Regions from separate parts of the Homo sapiens genome. Here region 2 is linked to region 1. A link means that fine-mapping ties the variant in region 1 to the expression of a gene that starts in the linked region. Tissue or cell type: tibial nerve. Region 1 holds a variant in brackets; the other region holds the start of a gene. All regions are shown on one strand. Distances are between the middles of the regions.

The links. PIP is the estimated chance that this variant, and not a neighbour inherited with it, causes the effect.
Region 2: LINC00404 starts here. The variant in region 1 is fine-mapped to the expression of LINC00404 in tibial nerve (GTEx, PIP above 0.99).

The regions. Positions count from the first base shown.
Region 1 is chr13:111,969,338-111,974,536 of GRCh38, forward strand. It overlaps SOX1-OT (SOX1 overlapping transcript), which reads left to right and starts at 2,973. Exons shown (of 4, transcript NR_120392.1): 1 at 2,973-3,056. The variant T/C (reference allele first, on the strand shown) is at 3,236.
Region 2 is chr13:112,103,380-112,108,507 of GRCh38, forward strand. LINC00404 (long intergenic non-protein coding RNA 404) reads right to left here and starts at 3,250. Exons shown (of 2, transcript NR_047014.1): 1 at 3,220-3,250; 2 at 2,716-2,859. It overlaps SOX1-OT (SOX1 overlapping transcript), which reads left to right. Exons shown (of 4, transcript NR_120392.1): 4 at 4,333-4,636. RefSeq lists enhancers at 299-918, 2,780-3,399, 4,020-4,638.

The DNA.
Region 1 (5,199 bases):
GATGGGCATGTTAGACCAACAGGCTTCTGATACTCCTGCTGGATTCCGCTGTTGCCTGTGCCCCCATAGCCCTCACTCTCCTGAGGCTCAGTCTCTCCATCTGTGGAGTGAAGTGGTTGAACCCGATGGCCCCTGAGGCCCCAGGGCTCCCAGAGAAAGCCAATGGTGTGGGTTTAATCAACTCCTTTCTTTAGTCATAGGGACCCCATCGCAGCAATTTTTACAAAAACTGGAAATGTCCAAGCTTCAGTCAAGTACTCGAAATATGGGCTCTCTTCACGCGGTAGATGGGGCCTCATCAGCCTTTGCACTGCCAGTGACCAGAGGGGTGACCCCAGCGCAGGAGGCCTGGATGAAGGCTGCAGAAGAGTGGAAGTGAGCCACCACTGCACCTGCTGCCTCAGTGCCAGCCTGGCGGGGCTCACGCTCTCCTTTCCAAGTGCAGAGTCCTGGGGTTGCTCACGCAGGTACAATGTGGTACACCCCGATCCAGCTCTACCACACGGCCCTCATTCTTTTGAGTGGCAACACTCTGGTCCCCATTTCTAAAGAGGAAGCTGAGGCTCTCTCAGGCTGGCCACAGGTTCCTGGCACAGCCAGGCCTGGAGTGCAGGGCTCAGCACACCTGACCTGTGGTTGTATTGTATTGTTTACTTTCACTGTGTCAACACATTGTATCACTTGTTCATTTTTTCCTGAGTAGATGTTTAGAGTATTTCACTGCAATGTCAGTCTTGTAAACTTTACACTCACAGAACTCTCCAGAAGGTGTCAAAATGTTGCCTTTAGAGCTGTTTGAAGAATCCCAACTTTAAAATCTATACACTGGTATTGATTTCTCTTTCCGTCATGGGAAATAAATAATTTTAAAAGGGATTTTTACAAATGTCCCGTGACAAAATCTAAGTCACAAAAATTCAGCAGCAAGGTGACTGTGTCCGTATTTTATGGAATTGGTGTGGTTTCCTGGAGCTGCACAGGAAGGTCCTGTGAGACGTGCACGTGATGGAAGGTGCGTCCCGAGCTGCAGAAACTCCGGTGGCCTCATTCTCCACTCAGTCGCACCGAGACTCACTGGCAGCAGGCGGGGAGCACACTAGTGGGCGAAGGGTACACAGACCCCTAAAACATTAGAGCCCCGTGTGCTGCCATGGCAGAAACACCGCAAGAGGTATGGGCTGTTGGGTTTTTCAGCTTAAGGTAAGAAATATTAATTTGCTAAGTTGGAATGGAAAATGAAAACGTGGTGCCAGGTGTCTAGATAAAGTAAACACAGGCTGTTACAGTGCTGGGGCCAGGTGCTCCACAATCCCTGCTAAGCTGGGCCATGTGGCCTCGGGAAGCCTCTGCTCATCGGTCAAACGTGGGCTACTGTGGGACCTTCTGCACCACGGGGCCTGGGCGAGCCTCCACTTGGGACACAGCGAGGCCTTGGTGCATCCTTGCAAGCCACCAGGAGCACTGGAGTCATATCCTGCGCCACAGACACAGCCCCATGCTGGCCGCTTCCCTCCCGTAACCAAAACGCTCCGTGCAGTCAAACAGCAACTTGCATTGCAAAAAACCCCACACCCTTCTTCGGTATATTTCCTGACTAAGCAGGCAAACAGTTCCATTTTAGGTGTGGTCCATCCCCACCGTGGGAGTGCTGTTACGGGGGTGGGGATGGTTTGAGGTCTCCCCCCAGGAATGTGAGCAGACACGTGGGTGAGAGACAGCAGTCTCTGTGTGTACCCACAACAGGACAAGAATCAGAGTTGCAGAACTAAACTGTTTCTGCCCGTTGGCAAGAGTGTCTAAAAATGTTTTACCAGAAGAAAACCAATATTCAAAATGTGCTTTTACATCAAATGGACAAGGGAAGTTGAAGTTTACAGTTTATAAACAGCAGGGCCCTTTTTTGACAAATGCAGTGAAGTTGTTTCACTAAAGAAATACTTAGCCAGGCGTGGTGGTATGCACCTGTAATCCCAGCTACTCGGGAGATTGAGGCAGGAGAATGGCTTGAACCCAGGAGGCAGAGGTTGTGGTAAGCCGAGATTGCGCCATCGTACCCCAGCCTAGGCAACAAGAGCGAAACTGTCTAAAAAAAAAAAAAAAAAAAAAAAAAACTTAGGCTCTGAGCTGAAAGATTAAACCAGAAAGCATTGCCCACCTGCAGGGGAATGCAGAATCCAGCTGCCCCAGGTGGATCCACTGCAGGACCTTCAGAATGAGAGATTCTAGGGCCAGAGAGAAAGCCTCATGCCTGCCTCGGTAACAACAGAACTTCCTCCAGCTGTCAGGGGCTGGCCTGGGAGGCTGCAGGAACCCACCCCCAGCTCCTGCGCACAGTGCACAGAGGCCGTCATGAAGTTTGCTGAAACTCGTGGAAGCTGCTGTTATCGGGGGAGACTAGTGTCCTCTCACTGAAAGATTCTGGAAATCGTCAGGTTCAGGACGCACCGTCCACCTGGAGCGTGAGTGGCAGGGATGTTCCAGGCAGTGCTTCCCAGGAGAACCTTCTAGAAGCCTTTCCAGCCCCTGACTAGGGTTGATGGACAAAGAGGAGAAAGTGGGGGATGAGCCTTCAACAAACTGACTCTGCTGGGGCTTCCGCTGACTTCAGTTTTCCCTCTCCAGAACCGGGGATGGCTGGCTGCAGCGTGGCCTCACTGCCTACACACCATTCAGCCCCTGTCTGCCTTTTTGTTTACACTGAGAACACAATAGGAGCTATGGTCCTTCCAATACATCATTTATAAGTGTGTCCTACCTCTGAATGCGCAGGCAGAACTGGCTGTGGGTGAATAAGCTCTGTGAATCTTGCCAAGACACTGCTTTGTTCAGCATTATTCTTCACAATAGATACCACACTTTGGAAGTAATTTTAAAAAGGGAATCAAAATAGTGGTACTTTTAGCCTTTGTTTCTTTTATACCACACTGCATTCTCTGTCTCTCATTCAGCCGCTCCCATTATTCTGACAAATTAAATAAACCACTCCATTGCAGAAAAGCGTGGGCAGGCAGGACTTCACTCCACTGCAGCCCCGGGAAGTCGAAATAAACATTGAGGTGGGTTCTGCTATAGCCATTTCGTCTAACTTAAGGAGGGGAAAAAATGGAGGGGGGAGACTTCGGAACTTGAGTGGGTCAGTAGCCCCCGAGAGCCGGCCTCTGCAGCAGGTCGCGACCACGGCGTGGAGGGCAGCGGTTTCCAGGAGCGCTAGGAAGTCCTTCCTGCGGTGTGGCCC[T/C]GGGAGCCCGGACGGTAAGTCACAGGAGGTTGGGGCACCGCAGAGGTGGGCAGCAGACTGCGCTGACGCCTGGGGCTCTGTTCCTGCAAGCAGCTTGGCTCTTCTCTCCTTTTTAAAAAGGCCTTCTTACAGGTGTTGAACCGCTGCCTAAAGAGGGAGTGACTCCAGGAGGAGGAGGACTTCTCTCTCCCTCTCTCTCTCTGTCTCTGACTCTCTGTCTCTTTTAAGCTCGACTTTGAGAAGTTTTTGACTTGTGCAATCACAATCTATTTATGAAATTCAGGCAAGGAGAGGACTGAAGAGGAGGAAGAAGAGACGGACAGGATTTTAGAGTGGGGTATTGCCTTCGGTTTTCTTAAGGTCCAGGATGTGTTACAAAACTGATGGGTGACACCCTTCTAACTTTTGGCCTTAAAGCATTTTTCTTTGTACAGGAGAAAAAACAAAAAGTGTGTGTTTGCAAAGGAATCTCTGTTAGATTAATGACTGATTTGAACTAGAATATACATGGAAGTCATTTTAGTTACAACTGCCTCTGTCCTCGTTTGTCGGGTGTGAAACGTGGGGTAGCCGTTTCTCTGAGAGTAGCTCCGTCTGGATTTGGAGAAATCCTCCTGACTGTTGTGAAAATCGTCTCCCATCGGCTGTGCCGGGACCCTCCCCTCCTTCCGTTCCTTTTCCCGCACCCTCTCTTAGCAGAACAGGTGGAGCGGGTGGAAAGGACAGCGGCGAGAGCGCGTGTGGTCAGGGGTCTCGGAGGCAGCCTGATTTCCTTATGAAAACAGAGCTCTGGTAAATGCCAGTTATGGGGAGGGCTTTGAAGGCTGCAGCCACCAGCTAAGATGGCCTCATCTAAAATGCAGGCGTCTGCGGCATGGAGGGGGCTCTGTGTTCCAACAGAGGCGTCCCCTGGCTTCGGAGTCAGAGGGCACTACAGGCACAGGGAAATATTGAGCCACAGTAGTTTGAACAGAACCATCAGGGTTCATCTTTTATTACCAAAGAAAGACTTGAAAAAGCCCAGGTGAAATTTTCTTCCATTGTCTAGGAAAATTCTCTGTAATTTGCCCCCTGGGAAATCCAAGTGCCTTGTGGCCGGGGCCCCCGCCCCACTCCCCTCTGTCCATCTCTCTCCTCCTCTCTCTGCGTAAATGTCTCCGGGGTCCCTGGAGAACCCAGGGGGCTGAGCAGGGGACGCTGAAGGTCAGGGTTGCCCACTGTGGCCTGACTTTTAAGCTAAAGAGGTTTTTCTTTCTCTTGTTGCCCTGTCAGGTCTAATTTGGCGGCATTATGCTGAGAGGGCGGGCCTGCTCCTGACAGGAGGGGGTTAAATGAGATTGCAAGCTTTGGAGGCTGTCAGCAGCCACTGCTGCCCGGGGATGTTAAATTGCGATTTAATGGTCAGCTTTATCTGGATGGTATCAGTGCAAATCTGCTGTTTTCAGCAACTTAATTGGCACAGTGTTTGCAGGAGTTTTTCGGGGAGGTAGGAGAGCTGACCAGATTTTAATGCTGAATTATTTAGAGATCAAACTGGCAGAATGTCAGTGGGAATCTGTCGCGTGTTTGGTTTTCTGAAGCACAGAAAGCTTATGAATGGGCAAGATGCTGAATTCCGCTGTGATGCCCGAAACTTTCTAAAAATATTCACAGGGTCTGATGCAGCTCCGAGTTTATTTATAGAGGGAATAAACAAAGAGTAACAGTTGCTATCACAACATATGTGCAGTGTCTGATTTGTGAGGGGGCAGCAAGAACGTAGAGGCAGCCGCTCTCAACAGAGCCAGTGTGGGCTGTCTTTTCAAAATTTTAACAGATGGGCGCCGCCTGTGGAGCTGCGTGTTCCCGGGGTGACTCACAGGTGACCCCACACTACACAGGACTGACGGTGCCTGCTTGTGTGTGCGTAAGGCATACACGGGTGCACGCCTGTTTGTGCGCTAGGTGTGTGCACAAGTGTTCAT
Region 2 (5,128 bases), 130 kb after region 1:
ACACACACACACACACACCCTGGGTGTCAGAGAAGTCCTCCCTTCCCTGTACCTCCTCCTTCCCAAGCCCCTGAAATCCAGAAGTGCCTGTTTCCAGGCGCCAGCCCTGCTGAGTGGATGTGGGGATGGAGGTCACTGGAGGCCCAGGGCTGGTTTGTTGTTTTTGTTTCCTGTTAGGAGTACTGTGAAGGCTTTGCAGGGCTAGTTTTGGGAAATCTTAGGTTTGGCTTCATCTGACTCCTCTACTGGAGCGAGGCGTGCAGCCAAGCCTGCTTAGACCTCCCCAGGCCACGGGCCCGCGGCAGCCCAGCTCAGCACCTGCAGGCGGGGGGACCGCGCGCTTGGCTCGAAGACCCCGCCCTGGGCAGGGGACAGAAAATATGAAATCAGATGGGGAGTTATGAATAACTGTCCTCCCCTCCCCTCTGCCGTGTTTCCTGAATCCGTACGCTATGCAGGAGGGGGGCGGGGGCGGGGGCGCGGGGAGGAGGAGGGGGCCGTTTGCCATTAATCTGGGAACAAGCGGCTAACCTCGGTGACTGGTATTTTCGCTTTTCTTTTCTCACTTTTCTCAGTGTGGGGAAAGCAGTCAAGCCCGCGCGGAGCGATTGTGAGGGGCTCTGCTGGAATTTGGCAGCGCGGAGGCTTGGAGAGAAGCCCCATGCTGGCTCCCATTCAGCCGGCCCGTTTTCCTCGAGCTTTGGAAGTTTCACTCAGCCGTGCACTCAATGGCTTCACAAAGCTGATTACAAGCTTCAGCGCATTCCTGAAGGAGCCAAAAGCGACGCAGGTGCAAACGAGCCGAGGGAGCCCCTTATCCCGGTGACAGAATGGGACAAGCTGGGAAAGGCTTAGACCACACAAGTCCAAGGCTCACCAGGCCGCAGAAAGCCTGCCTTGGGAACCGGGGGTCATTATCCGCCCTATTCAGCGGGGCCCGGGGACCCTGGGGGCCGAGCGAGGCCAGCCCGGGCGGGAGCACCGCCGCCAGCGCGCGCCGGCGACAGGGGGGAACCCCGCTGGGCGCTGCGGCCAGGCCGGGGCTCAGGGCGCTGGGCTGTGCGTTTGCACAAATCTGTGTTCCGGCGGGCCGGTGTCAACCCTAGTGGGGACACGGGAGAAAGAGCACGCCAGTAGGCCACGCGGCGCGTGGGCAGTGCGCAACTTCTGTCGGCGTCCAGGCTGTACGGCCACGTTTCAGCCGGTGCCCCCAGGCCATGGACACCCAGCTCCAGGGTCGCTCTGCGCCCTTTCTCCCCAGCCCACCTTTCCCATTGGTCCCCTCTCCTGTCCGAGTGGCAGCGCGGCCCCGCAGGGAGCGACCCCGGGAGGGACAGTGACCGCACGCGTGGAGTGGGGACGGCGGGGCACAGGACGGTAGTCTAAGAGTGTTCGCATGGCCGAGGACGCTTTCGCTGCGAGTTTGGGGTCGAGGGGCAGTTCCCTCCCGGAGTCATTAACTTCGTCTCCTCGTGCTCAGGGACCAGCAACTTGGTGCTGCGGGCGCCAGAAAGAAAAGGGTAGCGCCTCGCGGAGCGCGCGGGGGAAGAGGGACTGCGGCAGCGGGACGCGAGGGCGGGAGGGGCGCAGCAGCGGGGAGCCGGAGCGCAGCGGAGGGGAGCGCTGGGGGGCGGGGAGCGCTCGGGCAGCCACCCTGTCCCCGTCTGGAGCCCCGCGCTGCGTCTAGGAGGGCGCAACACGCAGTCCCCGCGGGGGCCAGAGCTCGGAGCCCCCTAGTGCATGCCCCCTCTCCTCGCGCCCTGCCGAGGCCTCGGCCCTGCCTGCCGTGCCCTGGGCCTGGTTGTGCCCGGGGGTCCCCGCGGGCAGGGCGCGGGGCAGGCAGGGCGCGCGCGCCGACGCTCTTTTGTCTGATAACTAATTTGAGTTAATGCGATCTTTATGTAAAGCTAACAGCGGATAATTGTCTATTTTCTCGCCAACAGTCTCCATCACAATCACTTATCTGGAAACCTGCGGTTGGATTAATCGTTATATTCCCGAGATGAGCGTCGCTGCAATCCGCAGCGAACGCGGGTAGGGACCTGGAGACGCCTCCCGGGCGCTGGCGGGGCCGGTGTGGGCCAGCTCCGCTACCGCCTGAGACGCGGTGTGCCCAGGTGTTGGTGCCCGCGGGAGAGGGCTGTGGGGCGCCTTCCCCAGGATTTGCTTGACTTGCTTTTCGCTCGAGTGGGTGGTGCGCGGGTGCGGGAGGCGGAGGGAGGAGGAGGGGTGAGGGGAGGAGGGCCTGTGGGGCTGCGGACCCGGAGCAGCCTGGGTGGAGCGCGGCCTCGGGAGGCCCTGGGTGCATCGCGGCGGGGCCTGGGGGGGCCCAGGCGCCGGAGGAGCCGTCGGTGCCGGAATGCAGCGTGTTTCACTTGGGAGAAACGTTGCCCTCGGTCCCTTGCCTCCCTCCTGTTGTCTCGGTTTTTCTGGCTTCGTCCTTCGTCCCACCCACCCGTTCCCACCTCAGGTCCCTCCCCCAGGATCCCCTCCTTAAGGATCCAGGTCTCTGAAAATTATTGGCAACAGTTACACGCCCCACGATTGAAATCCACAAGAGAAGAGTCCCAGTTCTGCAGGCCGCTCCAGGGCTAGGGGTAGAGATGGTGGCAGGTGGTGCGTCAACTCTCTAGGGAAGAGGAACTTGCATTACAAAGACTTGTCTTTCTGAGCTGAAGTCAAAACGGGGGCGTCAAGCGCGCTCCGTTTGGCGGCGGTGGAGGGGCCGCGCGCCCGCGCTGTCCCAGCCGGAGCTGCCCTGGCTGGTGATTGGAGGTTTAACGTCCGGAATTCAGGCGCTTCTGCAGCTCAGATTTGCCGGCCAAGGGGCCTCAGTTGCAACTTTTCAAAATGGTGTTTCTGGAAAATAACAAATTCAGACTCAACTGGTGACAGCTTTTGGCTATAGAGAATGAAACTGCTTCCCTTTGGCGGTGGAACTCTTAAACTTCGAAGAGTGAAAGAATACAATGAAATAAAATGCCATAAGATCACTGGATTTTTCAGAAAAAGGAAGACCCCAAATTACTCCCAAAATGAGGCTTTGTAAATTCTTGTTAAAAATCTTTAAATCTCGAATTTCCCCCTACAACATCTGATGAGTGCTTTAAGAGCAAACGAGCAAATCCCACCTCGAGAATCAACAAACCCAAGCTCTGGCCAAGGCTCTCCCCGCGTTTTCTTCTCGTGACCTGGGGAATGTCCCGCCCCATCGCTCACCTGGCTCTTGTCATCTCGCTCATCTTGAAGTGACCCGTGGACAATGCTGCTCCCTGCCGCAGCTCCGCCGGTCACTCAGGCAGAACGGGGTATGCAAATGGCCTGGAGAGGCCGAGGCCGAACACTGCGCCCATTGTCCCGGGCGCTCAAAGCGCCGAGCAGCTGCGCAGACTTTCTGGGCTCGGACCCTCGGCCGCCACGCTAATGTCATCATTGCAAAACATCAGATTTTGAGAACTATGCAGTCTGAATTCATTAGCAGCCTTCTCGGCGAAGGTTCTTTTCCCCGTGACAAGTTTCAAAGTCCAGACCCCCTCCAACGTTGGTAGGGGTAGGAAGAGGAGGAGGGGCCCAGGGAGGGGGGTCTTTCGCAAGTGGGGCCTCGGGGGATCCCTGCTCTCCTTCTGGTGCATTCCGCAACTTTAAAAGCCTTCCTTGGGGTTCTGAGCGCGGATGTCTGACTTGAATGACCTGAGATTTGGACATATTCCCGTTTTCTCCCAAGAGTTGCTTTAATGTTGCGAGTTTAAATTCACTGAAAGAGGCCCAGATACCAAGTCGAGTGAATTTCATAGACATCATCTTCTGTTTTAATGATCGCGGCAGTGATCGTTTCTGAAGTCATACCCTTTAGGGTGAACTCACAACAATGCATGTCAGAGAGGCTGCGCGCCCTAAAGCAAAACAGTTAAAACATCAGGCCACGCTCCTCAAACTGCAGGATTGCAAGCAGCTCACAAACTTCCAGTCCCCACCCCAAGGTGAGGAGAGTCTCAGTGACTTGAGGACCTGCTTGCACTCCCGCTTTCCACGCCCGGTCCCCTACCCGCACCTGCCCAAGTGGTCTCGTTCCTCTAGAATCTGAATGGTGGGGAGGGGTGCTCCTGATGCCCCGGGTGCAGGGCGGGCACCAGCGAGCGAGACCCAAGGGCGCTAGAACCCAGGAGCGCAAACCACCGTTAGGGCCTGAGGGACGCAGAGGCGGGTGGAGTAGTGTTTCTCAGATTCGTGGGAGGCCGCAGGCGCCAGCAGAGGCAATTTTCCTCCCCTGAGCAATGCTAGTTCTCCTCAGGCCCAGGATCTCCACTAACGTGTCCTTCCACCTCCTCACAGGACTCCAAGCTGCTGTCCCCTCTCTGCCGCATCTGAGGCTGGGAAAACTTCCTAGGAGAAGGCAAGAGAAAGCCACCAGACCAGAGCCGAGGACTAAACTTTAAGGTCGAAGACGGCAGAGGGGCAGGTTCTCCCCTGCACACCCCAAGGCCTCTCCTGCACCCGCGAGGCCTTCCTTGAGCGCCCAGGCCCCCGAAATGCCTGCCCTCCTTCTGACAAAAGGAGGGGGTAGGATGTGAAGGGGTAGTGCAACCAACAATGTTTTTGTAAACACAACAACAGGGAAATACATGGAGGAAATCTATTTATTGGGTGTGTCATTTTTGGTGGGGGGCGGGATTGAAAGTGGCGCCATCTAGACCCAGGAAAAAGCTACGGGGTGGGCGGGGTAAGCGGGGGACTCTTGGTAAATGTGGATAATTTTGAACTGGGACACCATTTTGTTTCCTTCCTAGAGCATTGTATGATGTGGCCTGAAGGCTCTGGAAAGTCACAGATCACACCCAGCAGGAGGTTCTTCATGTGTGCCAGCCCCTGGCTGGGCCTGGGCAGCCTTGCCCCCATCCTCTGGCCCCAGCTCCTGCCACCCCACCTGCAGACAAGGCTGCCAAAGGCTAGGGACAGGGCTCCAAGCTAGAGGCCGGCTTTTTGGAGATGTGGCTGTGGGAGGGGAATCCCAGGAAGTTGCATAGAGAGGGAGTTTTTGCCAGCCTGGGTCACTGATGGCCAGTCCGGGTCACTGATGTCTCCCCAGGGGCAAGGGGACAGTGCCTGGCTAATTGTGGGTTTCAAAATC